Homo sapiens: one gene and its partners. The gene in region 2 interacts genetically with the main gene of each other region. Each region holds a gene or a part of one and is shown on either strand. Other genes may lie near its edges. The genes, in order: TCOF1, TUBGCP4 and CTNNBL1.

Region 1 (3,652 bases), on a different chromosome or scaffold from region 2:
CTTTCTCCTACAGATTAGGCCATTCTGACTAAGAACTCATTGAAAACTTAAAAACAAAAAAACTACACAGCCCAAAATATGGCCGGGGCCTATGTCTTAGTCTGGCATTTAGGTCCTCCATAAATCTACCAGTAACAAGCACCTGGGAGGGCCTACGGCCTGCAGGACAGCTGCCTTCAGTGACCATGTGCCTTCATGCCCAGCCCCTCTGCACACACTGAGGGGCCTTCTCCACTTTTGTGCCTGGTCATCCTTCAGGTTCAGCTCAATCATCTCCTCCTTTTCTGGCCTCTCAGAGACCTGCTCTTTCAGCTGTCAGCACCACTAGCATAGTCTGCGATAATCCGGTCACCTGTCTTGCCCCACAGACTGTGAGCTCCTTGAGGGTGGGGCCAATGTCTTTCACCCCCAGTAATTGTTGGTTTGGTGTATCAAAGGCAGAGGTTAGGGCTAGGGAGCATTCATCTCAGTGCTTGTTTTACTCATGAAGAAAACAAATCTAAGAGGTTATGGAGCTTGGCCTGGCACAGGGACTTCCAGCTTCCCTTAAGAAATGGAAGACCTGGCCACACAGAAGGTCCATCTCCACAGTCATGACTGGCTGAAGCTGATAAGAACTGCCCCTCTGGATGGGGCAAGGGCTCTCCGGTCTGCCCTACTTGCTACCACTATCTACCATCTCTCCTGACATTTATCATCTCTTTTTTTTATTTTTGTGACAGAGTCTCACTCTGTTGCCCAGACTGGAGTGCAAAGCAATGGCATGATCTTGGCTCACTGCAACCTCTGCTTCCCGGGTTCAAGCGATTCTCCTGCCTCAGCCTCCCGAGTAGCTGGGACTACAGACGCCTGCCATCACGCCTGGCTAATTTTTGTATTTTTTTAGTAGAGACAGGGTTTCACCATGTTGGCCAGGCTGGTCTCGAACTCCTGACCTCATGATCCGCCCGCCTTGGCCTCCCAAAGTGCTGGGATTACAGGCTTGAGCCACCGCACCCGGCCGACATCTATCATTCCTGCCAGGCCTGCATCAGTCATTTCCATCACACACCTGTGCCTTGGCAGTGCTGGAGTTTGTCATCCTACACTTCTGTAGGATGTAGCAAGCCCTGCTATCTTCTGCAAGCAGACAGAGGGAATTGTTCAGATTTTCTTTCTCCCCACTCTCCAGGGTCCAGGCTTTGCACTAAGCTAGACAAGCCCTGCCTGAGAAGATGCGCCTGCCTATGTGAGGCTCCGGGCCAAGGTGCAGGATGAGACTTCCTCCATCTCTCCAGGACCTCAGGGGGACCTGTGCCACACTCCAAGCTTCCCTGGGACTCTGACAGGGAGAGTCATTTTGTATAACGTTAACGTATGCACAATAACTAACATGTAGATTCTTGGTCTCATATGCCTTGGTGGGAAATACTGGCCTAGCTTATAGAGCTGGTGGAGACCTCGACCTAGATATAGACCCAGGACACTTTTAGCTACGGAAGTCTTCGTTTGGGGGGTTTTAGTAGCAGGTTTTACCTAAGGAGATGTGGATGACAGCAGACGGAGGAGGGCATGGTGGAACTGGAGCCTTAAGCCTTAACCTGGCCTTCCTTTCTTTTCCTTACCTGGCCCTAAACCCTGGTTTTTCACTTTTCTTTTTTTTCTTTTTTTTTTTTTTTGAGACAGTCTCACTCTCATCACCCAGGCTGGAGTGCAGTGGCATGATCTTGGCTTGCTGCAGCCTCCGCCTCCCAGGTTCTAGGGATTCTCCTGCCTCAGCCTCCCGAGTAGCTGGGATTACAGGCACCCGCCACCATGCCCAGCTAATTTTTATATTTTTAGTAGAGACGGGGTTTCACCATGTTGGCCAGGCTGGTCTTGAACCCCTGACCTCAAGTGATACATCTGCCTCGGCCTCCCAAAGTGCTAGGATTACAGGTGTGAGCCACCACGCCCAGCCCTATACCCCCGTTCTGAGGAGTGAGTGTTGGTGGCTCAGAGGCCTGGCAAGTCTTACCTGGGCAGAGGTCACAGCTGCCGGTGCCTCCCCATCACTGTCTGATTCCTCGCTGCTGCTCCCTGAGTCATCCTGCTTCCCTGCCTGGGCAGCCGAAGGCCCTGTCTTCCCAGGAGGTGTTGGGGCAGCCCCTTTCCTGGGGGACTCCTTGGCAGGAGCCAAGGCAGCTCTGATCTGGTGGGTCTTCCCTGAAGGCTTCACCTGGAGGGAGAAACAGGATGAGAGGAGAGAGCCTGGAGGGTGGACGTGTGAGAAGACAGGAGCTGGATGTGGCAAAGGTGTTACATCCCATGTAGGGGATGATCTCCATTCCCTCCCCCTCACCTGAGCCAGCGTCTCCGCCTCCTCCTCACTGTCTGACTCCTCCTCACTGCTCCCTGAGTCCTCCTCTGGCCCTGTCTGGGCCTGAGCTGCTGTAGCCACGGCCTTCCCCACAGATGGCACAGATGCTGGGCCCCTCGCCAAGACGGTACTGTTCTGGGGGTTTCTCACTGGTGGCTTCACCTGAATTGCAGGGGGATAATAGTATTGGAGGCAAAAGTGATTCCTTTCAGGTCCCACTCCCCACTATGGCACAACTCTGGGTGGGTGGCCTGCCCATGCACGCACCTTCTCCTGGCTGGGCTCAGTGACTGGTCCTCCTCTCTACCCCAACCCTCCACACCTCCTGTGGCTTCTGGCCCCACTTGCCTTGGATGGAGACCTCTGCTTGGCTTGAGCAGCTGCAGTGACAACTTTTCCAGGGGCTGAAATTGTCCCTTTTGCTGAAGGTGCTCTGGCGGCAGCTGGGTTGGCTTTGGCCTGGGTTTTCTTTACTGAGGTTTTCACCTGAGTGGAGAAAAGGGAATTAAGGAGGGAGAAGGTGAGATTGAGTAAAGCAGCTAGCCAAGAATACAGACTCTGGAGCTGGAGCCCGAGTCTGGATTCTGGCTCCTCCATGCAATAGGCGTGTGAACCTGAGCTCATCACTTGATCTCACTGGGCCTCAGTTCAGTCCTCTATCAAATGGAGATAATAATAAGGCCCACCTACGGGTTATGATGAAGACTAAATAGGAGATTCAGAGTTTAACATGATGTCTGGAACATAATAAACACTCAAACTCATTGTGCGTGCCTTCCTTAGCATTAGCTAAGCACAAGACTACCTAAAACAGATGTTTTCCAGGCTCCCTTTCAGCTAGGTGGCAATGTCATTAAATTCTGGCTCATAGGATGTAAGTTGAGTGCCATAAAAGGTCAGAAACATGTCTCTTCCTCCTCCAGGCTAGATGGAATGCTGAGGTCAGAGCTGGAGCTCAAGCAGCCACGGCAGAACAAGATACTTGTTGTTTAAGGTTTTCTTCAGCTTAATCTAGCCTTAACCGATATCCAGAGAACCCCCAAAAGGCCTGTCAGGGATTCCAACAAATAGAAGGAGAACAAAAAAAAAGGGAAATTCCCAGAGTGAGATCCTTAACAGGAGTGACAGCAAGCCTAATGTGAAACAGAATGAGGACTCTGGCAGCATCTCAAGGCCCCTGCCTCACTCAGGGATGGCATCTGGTCAGTGTCAGAAAACAACCCCATCCCCCAGCATTCCTCAAACACATGAGGTCAAATGAGGTGAAGAATCAGGACTTCAAGAAGATTCCCTACAGTGTGGACCAAGTATGAC
Region 2 (3,652 bases):
TTGAGAACATTTGTTGGATATGTTCATTTATTCAATAGTCATTTATTGAGCACCTACTACGTACCTTGGTACTGTTCAAGCTGTGGGAGATACAGCGGTAAACAAACAATATAGAGCAGAAAGTTAAATATTTTATGGTTCATATGTGAAAAAGTAATTATGTTTATAAATAGACTAACTGCTGGATGTTACCACCAAGTAAGAAAGCAACAGGTAAGATAGGCTTTCTCTCTCCCTATACCAAGTAATTTATACCTACACAGATTGGGCAATTCTAGCTAATGAAAATATACTTAAAAGTATTTCTTAGGCCGGGCATGGTGGCTCACACCTGTAATCCCAGCACTTTGGGAGGCCGAGGCGGGCGGATCACCTGAAGTCAGGAGTTTGAGACCAGCCTGACCAACATGATGAAACCTCGATTCTACTAAAAATACAAAAATTAGCCAGGTGTGGTGGCATGTGCCTGTAATCCCAGCTACTCAGGAGGCTGAGACAGGAGAATTGCTTGAACCTGGGAAGCAGACGCTGCAGTGAGCTGAGATTGTGCCATTGCATTCCAGCCCGGGCAACAAGAGCGAAATTCCGTCTCAAAAAAAAAAAAAAAAAAAAAAAAAGTATTATTCTCCAAGAAAAAGGTCCTTAAGAAAAAATTGAGATCAAGTTGTTAGATTTTTAAATACTGAAGATTGCAGGCCCAATTACCCATCTTACACAAACCATAGGGGTTGAAGTTATCTTAATATGGCCCAGCCATCACTGGTAATCAATATTCATATCAGTGTAAGTAAAAAGAAATATTCACTGAACAACGCCCTCCAAACTGAAAAAGAATGCAGTGTTCTGGCATCAGGTTATAGTCACTGCATCTGGTTTTCATCACTACATATTCTACACACACTGGGAAGCTCTGACAACTTATTCCCTGCTATTATCAACTAAAGATCACCCTTTCTACTGCTGTCTCTGGAGCAGGAGCTGGCAAACTATGGCCTGCTGTCTGTTTTTGTACAGTTTTACTGAAACACAGCCATGCCCATTTGTTTACTCATTGTCTATGGTTGCTTTCATGCCCTCACAGCAAAGGCGAGTAGTTGTGATGGATCAAATGGCCCACAAAGCCTGAAATATTTACTCTTTGACCCTTTACAGAAAAAAACCTTGTTGACCCCTGCTTTAGAGAATGAGAAGCCATGCAGGGATCAGTGATGCCAGAGGAAGGGAAGGAACTGCTTCCAGCTATTGTGACAATAATAATAATAATAATATTGGGTCTTTGACTAGAACGTGTAACATTTCCAGGTGTTCTCACTTGTGCTTCCCATGTTTATCTTACGGAAGGTCATTCCATCAAGCTTATGGTCACTGTCCCTTCATGGCAGTTGGTCCTTTCGTTCTCCCTTTAGCTCTAAGAGTTGGGGAGTACCCACAGGTGAGCTGTGATCTCAGCTCAGAGAGAGAGCATGAGGTCTTTTTTAACTGTCAGGAAACAGAGCTGTGCCCAATTCCACTCAACTTTTGGCACAACTGTTAATCTGGGCCTTCACCTACCTTAAACTGAGTTTCTGCAAGCATAGCATTTTAGACACCCTGGAATAACCTTTTGGGAATGATGCCACAGAATAAAGTTCACTCTTAACTTTTCAATTTCCTTGGCCAGCTGTCCTCCGTAAGTGAATAAGCCTGTTGAAAGACTCAGAGAAAGTACTATGTCTTGTCATTTGTTCTGAGATTAAGCTCAAAAAAACAGATGAAGAAATCCCAGTTACTACAACCAAAGAGATTCAACATTTATTTTATCATAAAAGTTCAGCAAATAAAACTATATACAAGATCCATGCAAGGAATCCAGTTACACACAAGACACATTTAAAACCTGGTTAAAACACAATCTCCACGATAGCAGGGAATAAAACCAGTAAGACCAAGTATCTTTAGTGAGAAACATAATCGTGTTTATATTTTGGATGCTGCTTGAATCCAATTCTCTCCCCAACAATGAGGCACTGGATCACCCACTCTTGTGACACCACAGGCAGCTGCAATGCTTCAGCACACTTCAGCACCGAGGCTGGGCATGAGGGGTCCGTCACCACCACATCAAATACCCCTAAAGCAATATCTGCAAGGAGCAAGGGAAAGTGAAGAAGGAAAGGACACTCAACTTAGCCCTCCATTAGAAAGAGAGATTTGATTCTAACCAATACATCCCACTCTGCACAAACCAAAGCCCTATTATGTCAAACACACTGCTACTGATCATGACCAAAGGCAGAGTTATAATCACTATGTGCTGACCTTGTAGAAATATTTAACAAATATACGTCCAGTGCTTCACTTATGTTGACTCACCTCTTGAAGGTGGTACTTTTCTTCTCTAAGAAACATGGATACGGTCAACCTATTAGGCCTGAGCCTTGGACCACAAGGCCTAACACCTACAGGTCTAAGGAGATCCCTGGAACAAAGACACTACACACACTCTTTCAGGTACCTTTGTTATGGGCACTTGAATGGTGCTGCTTCACAGAGGCTGCACCACCAGTCATGAGGATCTCAGACCAGAGCTCCAGGAAGTTCTGCTGTTGGTCTGATACCAAGAGTACCTTCAGATTCTGGAAAGGATTTTCACGGGGTTGCCTATGAAGGAGACAGGAAAGGACCTTAGCATGACAAGTAATATCCAACAAACTGCCTTTCTGCAAAGGGACTCATGTACATCTGAATGCTTTCAAAAATAAATGCCCCATCAGACATAGTGTCTCAAGCCTGTAATCCCAGCACTTTGGGAGGCTGTCGTGGTTGGATCTCTTGGGCCTGGGAGTTCGAGACCAGCCTGGGCAATGTGGTGAGACCCCATCTCTACAAAAGACAACAAAAAAATTAGCTGGGTGTGGTGGCGAGTGCCTGTAGTCCCAGCAGCTTGGGAGGCTGAGGTAGGGGGATCACTTCAGCCTGGGAGGTTGAGGCTGCAGTAAGTCGTCACTGCGCCACTGTACTCCAGCCTAGGTGACAGAGCAAGACTTCATCTTAAAAAACTAAGCCCTATATTAGGGTCCCCCTTCTCTTCCTTCTTTCTATGAATGATCTGTATTCCTTGCATTCCTGGCTTTCTAATTTCCATGTTTGTTCTGGGGCTGAGAATAATCCAAATCATGCTCCTGAGCCTATATATTTTTAATGCTTGCTTAAAACTTAGTTCTCTGACTTTACAGGTTGAGAATATTGAACCTATATACAAATCTTCACACATTTGCAAAAGGTTCCTAGCCAATGTAACCTAGGGAAATAAACTAGATAAACTCCTGAAGTCATTTCAAACCCACTCAAATTTATCCCACAGACATTCCAATTTCTAGAAAGCTTTACTCTCTCACCTAGATTCTCTTCCCTCCAAAGCTTGCTGTCCTCCTGCCTATACAATTCTGGATGGGCTTCAAATACTTACCAGTCCAGAATTCTTTGCTCCTCAAGGCTGTACCCAGCTGGCAACAGATAATTACGGTAGTTCTGGAGCTGGTTGGCATGGCAACTATCATGGACCCAGACATGAGACACACAAGGAATCCCACTGGCAAGGCACAGGAAGTACTTCCGGGTTCGACAATGCTGATCCGCAATTAGAAGACACTGGTAAGCTGTGTTACACTGC
Region 3 (3,652 bases), on a different chromosome or scaffold from region 2:
TCAGTACAAAACCTGATAGGACTCTAATGCTGGATAAGCTGGGCCCTGATCTATTAATAGCTACTCCTACTATCAAAGAGGGCTGTGGCCCTAGGCCCAGTAACCACATTCTCCCCACTCTGCCTTCTCATCCACAGCACAGGGACAACATAGTTGACCACGCTGGCCTCTCTAGGTTGCCATGAAGACTCTGTGCCCGCTGACACCTCTGTGCCTTTGTTCATGCTCCTCATATTGCCTGGCATGCCTTCCTGTGTTCTTTTCCGCCTAATAAAAATGAATCTTCAAGGCCCAGCTCAACTACTATCTTTTCTGTGACACCCTCAATAGCCCCCAACTTGGTATTTACTGTTTCTTCTCCTATTATATCTCTTTTAAAGTGTCTGTTTCCTTCTACCTTGCCTTTATAGTCAGTCTCCCTAGTAACCTAAAAACTTGAGTGCAAAGCCTGTACTACTCAATTGTTAATTGCCTGGGGGCCTTGGGCATATTAAGATTCATTAAAATTGTATGTCCTGGGAGGGACAAAGATAGGGAAAGAAAGAGAGGTTTAGAACATTAAAATCGTATAAATGTGAAAGTCCCCTTGGTTAGGATTCAAGACTGACTGAAAGATGCCAGATTCCTCACATAGCACTTCATAGTGCACCAAGGTGCCAGTGTAGTAAAACTCACGTTAACTATCATCTCATGGGCACCTACTATGTGCCAGGTACTAAGCTAAACACTTACATTATTCTCCTTTAATCTTCATACAACCCTGTGAGGAAGGCATTATTTCCTTATACAGATGAGACACCCAAGGCTAAGAAAGGGGAAGTAACTTATTCAAAGGGATGTGTGTATCACACCAATATCTGTCTAACTTCAGAGCCTCTGAAATGATCTCCACAGTAAAGCTATCACTAACGGCAGGCACGATCAGTCTTCTTTGGGCACTGAAAAGAATAATGCAGGAGAGTTAATATGTTAACTGCGGGGCTGATCTTGAAAAGGGCTAGCTTACAAGGCTGGCCCTAGGCTGGCAGCCAGGAATTTGGCTTTTGAAATGTTCCCTAAGTGATAAGGTTGCTGCTTTGTCAGCCCGGGGCACTGAACAGCTGCTTTCCTTCCAGGAGCCTACAATTTTGGTTGTTATTGTTATTACAGGCAGAGAATGCCTACATGACCAGTCCTCCATAAAAACCCTGAACTCAGAGTCTGAAATGGGCTTCCCTGGACAGCATCACTGCACACATGTTGATGCATTTCATTGCTGAAGAAAGAAGCATGTTTGTATAATCCCACCCACTGGGAAGGAGAAAACATAGGAAGCCTGTATCTGAATTTCTCCAGATGCCACCTGATGTGTCTTTTTCTCTTGCTGATCCTGTTGTGTGCCCTGTGTAATAAACCACAGCCCTGAGTATCACTGACTTTGAGTCCTGGGAGTCCTTCTAGTGAATTCCCAAACATGGGGGTCATCCTGGGATTCCTGGCCCAAATCACAAAAGCCAAAACAAACCAAAATCAAAACAAAATTAGCCAACGAAACGCCACAGAGGAGACATGGTATCAGTGGAACAGAACCTTACTTCTCTGGATTGTCTGGAAACTTAATCCGCAATTCTTGGTTTTTATATGATCTCTTTTCAAATGTGAGGATCATTTTCTTCACTGAGCTTTCATCCAATGGCTCCTCCTGGTACAAAGAGACAAATGCAAAAACTTCAGTCCACAGGGGTTTCACATTCATTGTCACTACTTTCCTGTGGCTCTTATACCCCACCTCACTCTGCCATTGACCTTTCTGGGTTCAATGTACAGTACACTTTTTTTGTTTTGTTTTGTTTTTTGAGATGGAGTCTTGCTCTGTCGCCCAGGCTGGAGTACAGTGGTATGATCTCAGCTCACTGCAATCTCTGCCTCTCAGGTTCAAGCGATTCTCCTGCCTCAGCTTACCGAGTAGCTGGGACTACAGGCACATGCCCCCATGCCCGGCTAATTTTTTTGTATTTTTAGTAGAGACAGGGTTTCTTCGTGTTAGCCAGGATGGTCTCGATCTCCTGACCTCGTGATCTGCCCACCTTGGCCTCCCAAAGTGCTGGGATTACAGGTGTGAGCCACTGTGCCCGGCCACAGTACACACTTTATCTCTCTAATTACAATGAGGAGTAAGGGCCTGTAATCACATGCTTCTTTTCGGGTATATCACATTGGGTGTCTCACACAATGCCCACTATCTGTAACACAGAAAATTCGGTTTGAGGTGTTAAAGACTGGGCACTTCAGCACTTCAGGAGTCCAAGGTGGGCAGATCACTTGAGGTCAGGAGTTCAAGACCAGCCTGGCCAACATGGCAAAACCCCATCTCTACTAAAAATACAGGCACATGCCTGTAGTCCCAGCTACTCGGGAGGTTGAGGCATGAGAATCACTTGAACCTGGGAAGCAGAGGTTGCAGTGAGCCGAGACTGTGCCGCTGCACTCCGGCCTGGGTGAGAGAGGGAGACTCTGTCTCAAAAAAAAAAGAAAAGTTGTTAAAGACTCACTCATTCAACAAATATTTCTTGAGCACACTGTATGGCAGAGAGTAAGCAACAATATTAGATAATATTATTATACATTTACCTTGTCATCCTTTGCTATACATGTAAGATAAGACTGACAGGTTTAAAAGAATTGTTTAAGGTCAAACTCTGAGTCAGTGACAGTGACCCTTAATCTTTTCCTACAGCAGAAGTTGGCAAACTGCAGCCCATGAGCCAAATCCAACCTACTGCCTGTTTTTCCACAGTGCGTAAACTAAGAACGGTTGTTAATTAGCTATAGTCACTGCTTAGCATTTCTTATATATTACTTTGCCTGGTACTTACTAGATGCTGAGAAGGAATTCAGACAGGTACTTTGAACCCTGAAGTAGCATCAAGAATTTAGTAACCTTGCCTAGAGAATGCAAAAAAAAGCTAGTAGACTGTACAGAATTTTCTGGCTTCATACATTGGAATAATACCTATGAAAGCAAATAAAATGAATATTTGAAAACTAAATCATTTTTTCTCCAAAAAATCTACACTGAAATTTCACACGTTTTATCTTCAGTTTCCTTCCAGTTTAAATTAATGTGCTGCAATGCACCCTGCTTCTCTTCATACTATCCCAACTCAAAGCTTCACAGCTTTGTAGTCATTGACCATAACTCACACCTAAAAGCAATAAAGAAACTGCTATTAAGAGAACCTGAAATAGATCCTTTTGGAAAGCACTGAATCATCCCATAATTTTATAAGTACTCAAAAATGTTAGCTATTATTCTATTATTAAATTTCTATTTCCACATATGGGGTTTTAAGTGGGAGCTACCCATAAATTCATTTTCAGCATGACACATTTATTAGATTATACCAATGACTCCTAGATCCCAAGGTTCTCTATTGAACCCCTACCTCCTCCCCAGGGTCTACAGCTTAAAGACAGGTTCCCTGACACAGTAAAAACAAGTCAGAGTCCTGGCTCAGTCAAGACTCAGAGCCTAGCTTCACTACTTACTAGCCATGGGACAATGTTACTTTGCTGAATATATTTCTCAAAGCTTCATCAAGTCCAGCTAATTCTATCTCCTAAGTCTTTCCTGAACTCATCCACTACACACTTAGAATAAAATCCCAAATCC

Evidence for each region.
Region 1: changes in TUBGCP4 (region 2) and TCOF1 together harm fitness less than expected from each alone (positive genetic interaction), as found in Homo sapiens cells (one large-scale study listed by BioGRID).
Region 3: changes in TUBGCP4 (region 2) and CTNNBL1 together harm fitness less than expected from each alone (positive genetic interaction), as found in Homo sapiens cells (one large-scale study listed by BioGRID).

The regions. Positions count from the first base shown.
Region 1 is NC_000005.10:150,378,077-150,381,728, reverse strand, and holds part of TCOF1 (treacle protein), read right to left. Parts: intron 2,825-3,652; coding exon 2,687-2,824; intron 2,501-2,686; coding exon 2,321-2,500; intron 2,198-2,320; coding exon 1,997-2,197; intron 1-1,996.
Region 2 is NC_000015.10:43,405,449-43,409,100, forward strand, and holds part of TUBGCP4 (gamma-tubulin complex component 4), read left to right. Parts: 3' UTR 1-1,934; coding exon of another isoform or gene 1,935-2,122; 3' UTR 2,123-2,486; coding exon of another isoform or gene 2,487-2,640; 3' UTR 2,641-3,448; coding exon of another isoform or gene 3,449-3,648; 3' UTR 3,649-3,652. Other genes in the region: TP53BP1 (TP53-binding protein 1), read right to left, coding at 1,935-2,122, 2,495-2,640, 3,449-3,648. UniProt on the Homo sapiens protein: Component of the gamma-tubulin ring complex (gTuRC) which mediates microtubule nucleation.
Region 3 is NC_000020.11:37,735,407-37,739,058, reverse strand, and holds part of CTNNBL1 (beta-catenin-like protein 1), read right to left. Parts: intron 1,682-3,652; coding exon 1,575-1,681; intron 1-1,574. UniProt on the Homo sapiens protein: Component of the PRP19-CDC5L complex that forms an integral part of the spliceosome and is required for activating pre-mRNA splicing.